Homo sapiens: one gene and its partners. The protein of the gene in region 1 interacts with the protein of each later gene in a pairwise test. Each region holds a gene or a part of one and is shown in the gene's direction. Other genes may lie near its edges. The genes, in order: DCLK3, BTBD9 and ZNF292.

Region 1 (3,755 bases):
AGGCTGAGCAGCCCAGAGAGGATCTGAAAAGTGCATTGTCACAGAGGCCAAGGGACATTTCTAGGATTGATGAGGTCCAGGAAAATCAATCCCTCTCAACAGTGAGATGGTTGAGAACTGAGAAAAGACCAAAAGAGGTCATTAGTGACTTATTCTTTTAATATTTTCCTGCAGATTTGTATTTTGACAAACTTACTCTGGGGCTTAATTATGAATATCTAACTTCTAAATTACAGTGGTCAAGTGTTTTCTTTTTCTAACTGTAAAAAGTTAGTTAGAAAGTGTTTGAAAATGTCTATATTGCTGTGATAAGTTTTGGGAGGACAATGTGTAATATGTATCAAAAACCTTTACTGTATATTGCTTTGTCTATTTCATTGCTGGAAGGTTATTTTAGGAATATAATCAGACATGTGCACAAATATTTAATAAATGCTCATCAGAAAATTCCTTACAGCTGTAAAAAAATTAGTAAAAACTTAAATTACAACATAGGGATTTATTATGTAAAGGGGATACTAATAGTTATTAGAAATCATTTTTGTAAAAAATATTTTTGGTATTTTTCATAGGAAATTCTTATGTTGGAAATGTCATTGTATAATATTCAGTAAATAAAATAGAGTATAGGTGCAATGTGATCCTATTTTTATTTAGAAAAGTAAATAAACATTTTATTTAGAAAAGTATACATGTCTCTATATAGGTGTGTGCGCGTGTGTGTGTGTGTTGTATACCAGTGTGTGCACACATGGGGATACAGCTAGTAAACATCAGTCTTTTAAAAATCATTTAAAAAGCCAGTAAATGATATTTTTTAAGTGAGAGAGAAGACAATGGATATATAGGAAGCAGAGATTGCTAGTGTAGACTGGGGCTTCTCTAACTACCTCCAGTGAAGGGTCAAGTTTTAAAGTTTCCAGTACAGTGTGGACTCACGGTCCTGCTGCATGTGACTAGAACACATCTCATGCCACATGTGACTCACTACATGTGTTTGACAACGCCTGAACTGATGTATGTGCTGTTCAACAAGATGTGCCCTTCAATCATGCAACTGAGCGTCACAGTCTTGTTAAATTGCTATAAGAGTTTCCAAACACTTGCTTTCAATTTCTCTGCTCATTCTATTACAGACCAGTAATAAGGCATTGCAAAGTGGCAGTGATCCATGGACCACACTTTGAGTAATGATGGTGTAGAGTCCTTATGTATAGGAGTTAGCAGGGAGCTGTGTTTGGAAGTGGCTCTTGGTTGCTGAGAGCTGGGATCCTCTATGACTTAGATCTATTTAGAACCACAATACTCCATCATTTATTTCATCACCTTTGACCCTGCCTGGTCTCAGGTTTGCTTGTGTCTCTGCCTCTGTCTGCGCAGGTTATGGACTGGAGGTGGACATGTGGGCTGCTGGCGTGATCCTCTATATCCTGCTGTGTGGCTTTCCCCCATTCCGCAGCCCTGAGAGGGACCAGGACGAGCTCTTTAACATCATCCAGCTGGGCCACTTTGAGTTCCTCCCCCCTTACTGGGACAATATCTCTGATGGTGAGATTTGGGGCTTCCTCACACAGCAGAGGAGCGGATGGGTTTTTCAGGTCAGATGTGTAGAGGACCCACCACTGTGCCTGGTGCAGAGTTGGACTGTCAACATGTCATGTCTCAGCCTTTACTTCCTCAGTAGCTTCATGTAGGTTTGTGTAGCACTCTGAAAACATGGCTTGCTTTCAGATTTAGTGAAAAAGCCCAACCACCAGTTACAGTCACCAAGTACTTTTCCTTAAGGCAATTCAAGAACCTCAGAACAGAAAAATATCAGAAACATTGTAACTCCCCTTTGGAAAGAGAAAGGCCATCTTATATGCAGAAGTGTTTGTGAATGGAACAGACTGAAAATGCTTATTTTACACATGCATAATCAAGGGTCCTATAGCAGCACACTTGAAGCACAGGGGCTCTGCAATGAAGATCTCAGTTATTTTTTAGTGACTTGGAGCATGCATGGTCCTCCCTGCTTTTGGCCCTCTGTTCCATTTGATTCCAAATGAAATCCTTCCCCTTGTCTCTACTGATTTGTCTGTACTACTCACTGTCCTTGTAAAACTGGGAACTAGATAATTGGGGATTTTGAGTCTTTAGCTTAAAAAGTAGAATAGGAGGCTGGGTGTGGTGGCTCATACCTATAATCCTAGCACTTTGGGAGGCCCAGGTGGGAGGATTGCTTGAGACCAGGAGTTTGAGACCAGCCTGGGCAACTGGCGATACCCCTTCTCTACAAAAAATGAAACAAATTAGCCAGGGGTGGTCCCAGTTGCTCTGGAGGCTGAGGCAGGAGGACCACTTAAGCCCAGGAGTTTGAGGCTGCAGTGAGCTATGATTGTGCCACCACACTCCAGCCTGGGTGACAGAGACCCTGGTTCAAAATAAAAATAAAAATAAAGTAGAATAGGAGTGATAACATTTTGTTTTTCAATTTTCCCTAAACATGCTATTGAATTTTAGTTATTGAACTGCCTCCATCCCTAGCCTCTATTTCCTCACTGGGATTGGAGGATGAGGGAAGGGAAAATCTTCATTTTCCCCCCTTTAAATAAGGTAGGGAGAGGGTGGCTTGTCACAGTAGATGAGGATCTTGAGCTGACAAGGCAGTGGCAACTGGGAATTGAGGGACTAAAAATCATTTTAGAAAGTTCTATGCAGCACTCCTTAGATTTGGGCATGGGTGGCCCCTGTCCTGGGCCCTGCTGTAGTCACACCCTTCTCTACAGAGTGAGGAGAGTATGGGGCCTAGGGGATGTGCCCCCAGAGCCCAGGTCCCCTCTTCTAGATCACTTCCTTAGGGCCCCTGAATTCCCTGTCCAAATGGCCCAAGCCCACATCCAAGGTTTGTGAGACCTCTTTCCAGCCTCTTCCCACTATGCCATAAAGTGGCCAAGGAGTGGCCATCTGGAGGGGTTAGACAGAGCTTGGACATGTTGCCTGGGGTGTCTGGTTGTCCACACTTGTACACAAGAGTCTGAGGATTCTCAACTTAAATCTGGCCTTCCAGCCTCTGAGTCATTTGAGGACCCTGAGGGAGTGATGTGGCAGTGGTGGGGCTGGGGCTTTTTGGGGCAGAATTTTCCCAGCTTGAATTGGGTGGTGTAGGAGGAATCTGGGCCTTCTGTGCTCAGGAGGTGGCTGGACATCGGGGGAGGGGAGCGGTGATTGGTGGGTAAGCAGCTGGTCTTGAGTAAGAGACAGCCTTCAATAAAGGCAAAAAATAACAACAACAAAAAGTGGATGTTTTCTTCTTGTGCATATCTTGAGTGATTGGAAGAGCAGTCTCAATGAGCCAGGCTGGGAGAGCCAGCAAGCCAGGGGGAAATCTCTTCTGCTTTCTGCCTGCTGCTGGGCCCACCAGTTGGGCCCTCATTTCTCTAAAATCAGTCATGGTCTTGGGCAGAAAATAAAATTATTTTTGAATTTGCACTATTTACTTTTTAGATTTCTTTACACGGTTTTCAGTTTTGTCAATGTGAAGGCATATGTATTGACTTGGAAAGATTGAACATATTTTATTTAACAATGTGTTAGTTTCGATTTGAAACCTTAAAGTATGTAGATGTATAGCATGTGTTCTCCATTTGTTCCTTTGCCCTGAGTGCCAGGGATGTTAAGAGTGGGTCTGGCCCTGCGATTCCAGAGAAATGAAGGAACGTCCTCTCGAGCTGTGCTGTCCAACATGGTAACCCCCCTCCCTGCTGCCACACGTG
Region 2 (3,755 bases), on another chromosome or scaffold:
TAGCGCTTTTGGAAATATCTTGAGTTGTTTCTTGTGGGCAAGAGAGGGGAGAGGGCTGAACTCATCTCAAGAACCCATTCCTGAGATAATGAACCCATTCCTGCTATAATGGCATTCATCCATTCATGAGGGCCTAATCACTTCTTATTGCATGGGGGAAGTGATGAGGCAGGAAGCTGTTTTTGGAGCCAAATTATGAGGGGGTCTTCCACTTCATCCTAAAAAGTCTAGACTCCTCCCATCCATTGGCAGTGGAGAGCCATAGAAGGTAGAATAATCAGAAAGTTGACAGTTCGTGTGCAGATTGCATTAGAGTAGAGAGGCAGGGAGACTAGAGTGTAGGTGAGAAATGTTGGACAATGGGAATGGATAGATTTTGGAGACATTTTTAGATGTTAAAATCTCTACATTTATGACCAGCTAGAGGTAAGGGAGAGTGAGAAGTCAAAGATAATATGTCTAGTTTGAGCAACTGTTTGCTTATGATGACATTAAGTTAGAAATCACAGGAAGAGGAACAGGTTTGAAGTGGAGAGAAGAAATAATGGCAGTGTTAATTCTGAGGTTTCTGTGGGGAGTTTAAAAAGAGAGATCCACTAAGTAACTGGAAATGCTACTTCAGAGTTTATGAGATGGTTAGGGACAATTGTAATATAGATGTCCGCTGAGGCTGTGGGAGTAGCAACCTTCTAGGAGGCATGTTAGTATAGTAGTTAACTTAGTGGACTTTGGAGTTAGGAAGATGGCAGGTCAAATCTCTGTTATGCTGTTTATTGGTTGGCTGACCTTTGGCAAGTTATTTAACTTCTCTAAGCCTAGGCTTCTTATCTGAATTAAAGAATTGTGGAGATTATACATGTGCACAGTGATTAACACAAAGGTACTATGTGCACAGTGATTAACACAATGCCTGTCTTATAGATGCTTAATATAATAAATGGCAGCTGTTGCTGTTATTGTTAGTAGTAGTTATAGATGTAGAGATAGTAGGAGAGGCCCCAATGCCAGAAAAATGGAGAGTGAGAACTGGAAAAGATGGTGAATGGAACTTTTGGACGTTTAAATCAGTATTTAAACTTGGATCAGTTCTTGTCTTTGTTTTGTGCTGCTATTTCATATTTTATGTTTCATAATGGCAGCACAAAACAAACTAAGACAAGAACTGATCTAAGTTTAATTTATAAAGAACAGTCTGGTTAATTTATAAAGAACAGAAATTTATTTCCTGATAGTTCTGGAGGCTAGGAAGTCCCAGATCAATGTGCCAGTATCTGGTGAGGGCCTTCTTGCTGTGTCATAACATGGCAGAAGGCATCACATGGGTGAGAGAGAGAGGGAAGGGGGCTGAACTGATCATGTCAACCTATTCCCACTCTACTGGCATTAATTCATTCATGAGAAAAGAGTCTTCATGGCCTAATCACTAAAGATCCCACCACTCACTGCTGTTGCATTGGGGAATCATGTCTCCTCTAACACATGGAGGACACATGCAAACCATAGTAGTTCTAAAATTTGAAAATGCATTGGGTAGACCTGGAGGTGGCCAGGTGTGGTGGCTCATGCCTGTAACTCCAGCACTTTGGGAGGCTGAGGTGGGTGGATCACTTGAGGTCAGGAGTTTGAGACTAGCCTGGCCAACATGGTGAAACCCTATCTCTACTAAAAATATAAAAATTAGCTGGGTGGGGTGGTGCACACCTGTAATCCCAGCTACTCAGGAGGTTAAGGCAAGAGAATCGCTTGAACCCAGGAGGTGGACATTGCAGTGAGCCGAGATTAGGCCACTGCACTCCGGCCTAGGTGACAGAGCGAGACTCCATCTCAAAAAAGAAAAAAAAAAAGAAATAGCTGGAGGCTTTGGTAAAGCACAGATTTCTGGGTCCCACCCCCATAGTTTCTGATTAAGTAGGTGTGGACTGGGGCTTGAAAAATTGCATTTTTGAACAAGTTCCCAGGTGATGCTGATGGTGCTGTTAGAGGATAGATGAAAGAAAAGGAACCAGCACTAACAAAGTGGTTGAAGTGTATGGAGAACCAGGAGATAGTTTAGAGAAGAATAAGAATTTTAACAGCCTCCAGACTCTCTAGGTCTACCAGTCTGATTTCCAATTTCGTAGAGCTTATCTCATTCTTATTTTTGTTTTCTCCAGAATCTATTATAATGCCTGATACATAGCAATAACCTTTGAAGCTGCTTAATACTGTCCTGGTGCATGATGGCATGTACCTCACACACAGATTTCATTTATCCTCTTTTATCTCTGATGAGTCATGGGGAGGATATGATTTCTAATTTTACACACACACAAAATAACTACAGAAAATTTCTTTCATATATCTGGTGTGTAGCTATGTGCATTTGACTTTGTGTTAGATGCCCTCTCCCCCCCCTTTTTTTTTAAAAAAAAGGAACAATCCAGTTTGCAAAATAATTTTTAATAATATGTGCCAGGATTCCAGTCTGTGTCCTGTATTAGGCACATTGAGTCTTAAAAGGGAAGCAAATAATATATTCCCTGTTCCTGGGAAGTTTACAGATAAGATGGGTGAAATGAGCAAAACCCACAGGAAAGAAACAGGAAGAGGTATAATCACAGAAACATGGATGTAGAGAATCTGAATCTAAGGACATATTCTTTGCTTGCCAATATTCTTTGGGTTTTACATGTTTCATATACTGAAGACTTTTGGCATATAGCACACATGTTAGTCCTAGTGAGAGGAAGTTATAAGGGAGTTCCACTATATAAGGAAATAAAACAGTAGCTGTGCAAAATTATAAACACATTTGTAAAGGGAGTGAAATTGGAGTTAAATTGGAGCTTCATGACTGACAGCTTAGCTACTCACTATTCTGCCTAGGTGCTTGTTCTCTCTCATTTATCTCCCAGCTAACATTCATTAAGCATTTATAGTGTGCCAGAAATCGTGTGAAGTGCTGGGCATAGAGAAAACAATAATTGCCTTGTGCACCTAATTCTGGTTTTACTTGGGGAAAGGAATGTGCACACATGTATGCATATTGTCAGGGTGAAGGAGCCTGACTTTTATAATCTTAAGATTATATTGAAGGAAGAGACATTGAGGACTTGAAGTTAAATTCATTCAGCCTTATGTATTCAAGGGGCCATGACGAGTATAGGGATGGGGCCATGACGCGTATAGAGATGTATATTTTTTTTTTAGCAATCAAATTTGTAATTTGATAGAGGAGAAAGAACATATTTGGAGTAATAAAAAGAATACGATAAGTACTGTATAAATATTGATTACAGACTAGGTACTCTGGCTTCTTAAGCAGCTAAGTGTTCAGTTTTAACAGCAACTCATAAGCTATTGTAATGTTTCAGAAATTATAACATGTCATAAGTCCACATTAACCTCCTGGGCTGCCTTTGCATCTGAATATGAGACACAAAAATATTCTGGCAGTCTGTGTCCCTATTTTCTTGATTTGGGAAGTATATGCATAATGCATATAAGCAAAAGAGTAATTAAAAACAAGGTGCTATTTATCTAATGGCTACATTATGCAAGGCCCTTTCTATATACTGTTTCATCCTTGTAATGACAACCTTGTCAATTTGACATTATCTCCATTTTACTAATAAGGTAACTGAGTTCCAGAATGGGAACTGTTTGTCTGTAGCTTGTGGCCAGTGAGAAGTGGGACTGGGCTCCAGTACAGACCCAGGTGTGGACTCTGCAGCCTGTGTTCTTTTTACTTCATGCCAATTCCTTATGTCACCATG
Region 3 (3,755 bases), on another chromosome or scaffold:
CGAGTTGGGCGGATCGCTTGAGCCTGAGCAGCATGGCGTGGCCCCTTCTCTACAAAAAATACAAAAAACAAAACAAATCAAAAAAATTAGCCAGGCGCTGTGGCGAGTGCCTGTAGTCCCAGCTACTTACGAGGCTGAGGTGGGAGGATCATTTGAACCCGGGAGGCAGAGGTTGCAGTGAGCAGAGATGGTGCACTGTGCACACTCCAGCCCGGGTGACAGAGAAAGATCCTGTCTCAAAAAAATAAAAAATAAAAATAAAATTGTATCTTAGCAATTATCACCTAGCATTTTGATACGAAGTTGAGTGAAGCAATGGTTAACAATTAAAGAATTTATTGGCGCAATCTAAATATAGTACCAGGGATACTAGGAGCTAGAAATTATGTCTTAGTTTCTAACCTTGAGATTATTATTTAACTTTTTCTGTTTAAGCTTTTCCTGTAAAACTGGGATAGTCACACGCTTCAAGAAGGCAAAGATGAATAAACGTTTGTCAAAGTTAATGGGCTTCAGAATTAATATTCTGTCAGTGTTGATGCTCAGTGCTTGTGTAACCCTTAGTTTTGCATTTACTTTAAAAAATGAATTAGTTTACATTCTATGTAATTTTTATGAGCAAAAGTTCAGTTTCTGGAGAATGTGGTGAAACCCACAGAAACAGGAGTTGCTTATGATCCGTAGTTTATAGATTTTTATTTTTGAGTGAGGTAGAAGATTAATAGATTTTTTGAATTCTGAGTAGCAGAATAGAAACGAAAGGCATTAAATGTTTTTCTTATTAACAGTGTTGTTTTGCTCATTCTGGAAATAAGCCACCTGCCCCCCCTTTGCTTATTTAAATGAGAATTTGCTTAAAGCTTAAGTGGGAGGAGGGAAGAGTAAGTAGAGGATGGGCATAGTAGAGCGCCCGTCATAAATTTTAAATTTTTTTATATATTTTATTTTATTTTTGAGAGATGGGGTCTTGCTACATTGCCCAGGTATGATCATAGCACACTACAACCTCAAACTCTTAGGCTCAAGTGATCCTCCTGTCTCAGCTTTCTTTTCTTTCTTTTTTTTTTTTTTTTTTTTTAAAAAAGATGTAGTTTAACTCTGTCACCCAGGCTGGTGTGCAATGGCGCAATCTGGGCTCACCACAACCTCCGCCTCTTGGGTTCAAGCAATTCTCCTGCCTCAGCCTCCTGAGTAGCTGGGATTACAGGCATGTGCCACCATGCCCGGCTAATTTTGTATTTTTACTAGAGACAGGGTTTCTCCTTGTTGGTCAGGCTGGTTCCGCCCCTCTTGGCCTCCCAAAGTGCTGGGATTACAGGCGTGAGCCACCACGCCCGGCCCTGTCTCAGCCTTCTAAGTAGCTGAGACCTCAGGCATACACCACCATGCCCAGCTCTTAAATTTCCTTGTATCTTTTCAAAGTTAGCTTTAATATGGGCAATATAACCAACTCATTTTCTTAAAATTGACTTAGAATAAGTATATAGAATAACCAGAAGTAATTTCTTGCATTTACTTGTTTTAGGATTATTACTGTATTTATTATACAAAAATTGGTTATAATTGGAACCTTTTAGACTAGTTAATTGTATTAGACTGGGCCAGTAGTCACTCATTCAACATTTCTATTGAACATCTACTGTATACAGGCTAGGCAAGGATGATCATGGTCCCTGGCTTCAAAGAGTTTATAGTCTCTGGAGGAAGGTAGACAGATAATCGTAGTAAACTATGATTTATATATTTTATCACTGAGGTGAGTACAGTAAAGAGGGAGGTTATTTGGGAGTTTTAAAAGAAACATTCCAACAGAGGAGTTGTTCTAAAGAGATTTTAAAATAATAGTTCGTTGGAAAAATTGGCCATTGTAATAGTTGATTTGTTGGAGTATGATATTTGCTGACAGCACTATATACTGGACTGGCCGACTGGTTGATTGTAACTGTTATTGACCATTGATCAGTAGTGATCTGGTGGCTGACAGTTGTTTTGAAGGGTTGAATTACAGTCGTGTGTGTATGTGTATACATACGTACATGTGTTTGTATATATATGTGTGTGTGTGTGTGTGTGTGTATATATATGCAAGGACCTAGGTTTAGATGTTACAGAGGATATAAGATACAGGAGACTCTAATAAAAAAATATGTTTGTGTGTATATATACATATATACGATGTGTGTGTGTATACATACATGTATACGGTGTGTGTGTGTGTATATATACATATATATGATGTGTGTGTGTATATATATATATATAATTTTCTTAGTTCATATAAGCAGGGCTTCTCAACTGGGCATAGTACTTTCCCTACCTCCAGTTCTCTCTTTGATGGCACTTAGAAATATGTGGGATCAGGTTTTTGGATGTTGCTATGACTAGGGATGTGGTACTGGCATTTAGTGCCCATGAGCTTCAATGCTAAGTTTTCTGAAGTGATCAGGACCGTCCCAACAAATGAAAGCGTAATTCCTCTAAGTACCCTTTTCAGAAACATTGAACAGAAAGAAAAATAGTATATCTAGAAGATTTTTTTTTTTAGTCCTTCTACTCTTTTCATATTGAGATAGTTAAGCTCCAGAAATATACTTTATTTGGAACAGGTCCAGGTAAATGATATTCAACAATATTTAAGTATAATTTATACTGACCATGAGAGGTCAAGAAACTTTCTACTTTCTTAGCAGAAATTACAAGCAATTGCATAAACAGTTAGTAAAACAACTTTTGCTAGGTTAAAGAGGGTAGCAAATTCAGCATAATTATCCTGATTAAAGAAAAGATTTGACATTTTGATATAATAAATTCTGTACTTTTAAGAAAGCATTTATATGCAAGGACCTAGGTTTAGATGTTATAGGAGATAAAAGATACGGGCAACTAGTGGGATATAAATTAGTAAGATAATATTTAAATATCACTTCAAAATGACAGCTGAAAAGATGTCAAAAGGCAGTGTATTAACTAACAAATTGTTTTGCTTTATTTTTATTTTTTTGAGACAGGGTCTCCACTCTGTCACCCAGGTGGGAGTGCAGTGACACAGTCACGGCTCACTGCATCCTTGACCAACTGGGCTTAAGCGATCCTCTTGCCTCAGCCTGAGTAGCTGGGACCACAGGTGCACATCAACATGCCTAACTTTAAAATTTTTTGTGGAGACAAGATCTCCCTACATTGCCCAGGTTGGTCTCAAACTCCTGTGCTCAAGCAGTCCTCCCACCTTGGTCTCCCAAAGTGCTGGGACTATAGGCGTGAGCCACTGCACCCAGCCTGGTTTTGCTTTTTTGTTGTTTGTTTTGTTTTGTTTTAAATTGAAAATGTACTAATTGAAATGGTTTTTTAAAATTCACCCTGAGAAAGGGCATACAATGAAAACTTGATCTTTTTCCCATTCTAGAGTTCCAGTCTCATTTCCACAAAGACAAATCCCCTAATGGTTTCCAGAACTAGTTTGCTCTTTTTAAGAAAATAAAGATAACTACACTGTATCTTGCTTTCCCTCCCCCCAAAAGCATCTTCTAGCTCATTCCATAGCTGCTCATGTAAGTTTTTGGCTTTCCCTATTATAGTATATAGTAATTCTAGTCTATGGCTGGGTCTAATTAATCAGTTCATTATCAGTGGATATTTAGGAGAGTAAGTTAATTTTATGTATAGCAACTTAAAGAGTTCAAAGTAGGTAGTAAGCACTTCAGGCTGGGGTATCAGGGAAGGCTTTCCTGAGGAGGTACTATTTGAGCTAGTCTTCA

Evidence for each region.
Region 2: the proteins of DCLK3 (region 1) and BTBD9 interact in a two-hybrid assay, tested with the Homo sapiens proteins (one study listed by IntAct).
Region 3: the proteins of DCLK3 (region 1) and ZNF292 interact in a two-hybrid assay, tested with the Homo sapiens proteins (one study listed by IntAct).

Annotation. Positions count from the first base shown.
Region 1 is NC_000003.12:36,715,803-36,719,557, reverse strand, and holds part of DCLK3 (serine/threonine-protein kinase DCLK3), read left to right. Parts: intron 1-1,380; coding exon 1,381-1,548; intron 1,549-3,755.
Region 2 is NC_000006.12:38,633,225-38,636,979, reverse strand, and holds part of BTBD9 (BTB/POZ domain-containing protein 9), read left to right. Parts: intron 1-3,755.
Region 3 is NC_000006.12:87,158,439-87,162,193, forward strand, and holds part of ZNF292 (zinc finger protein 292), read left to right. Parts: intron 1-3,755. UniProt on the Homo sapiens protein: May be involved in transcriptional regulation.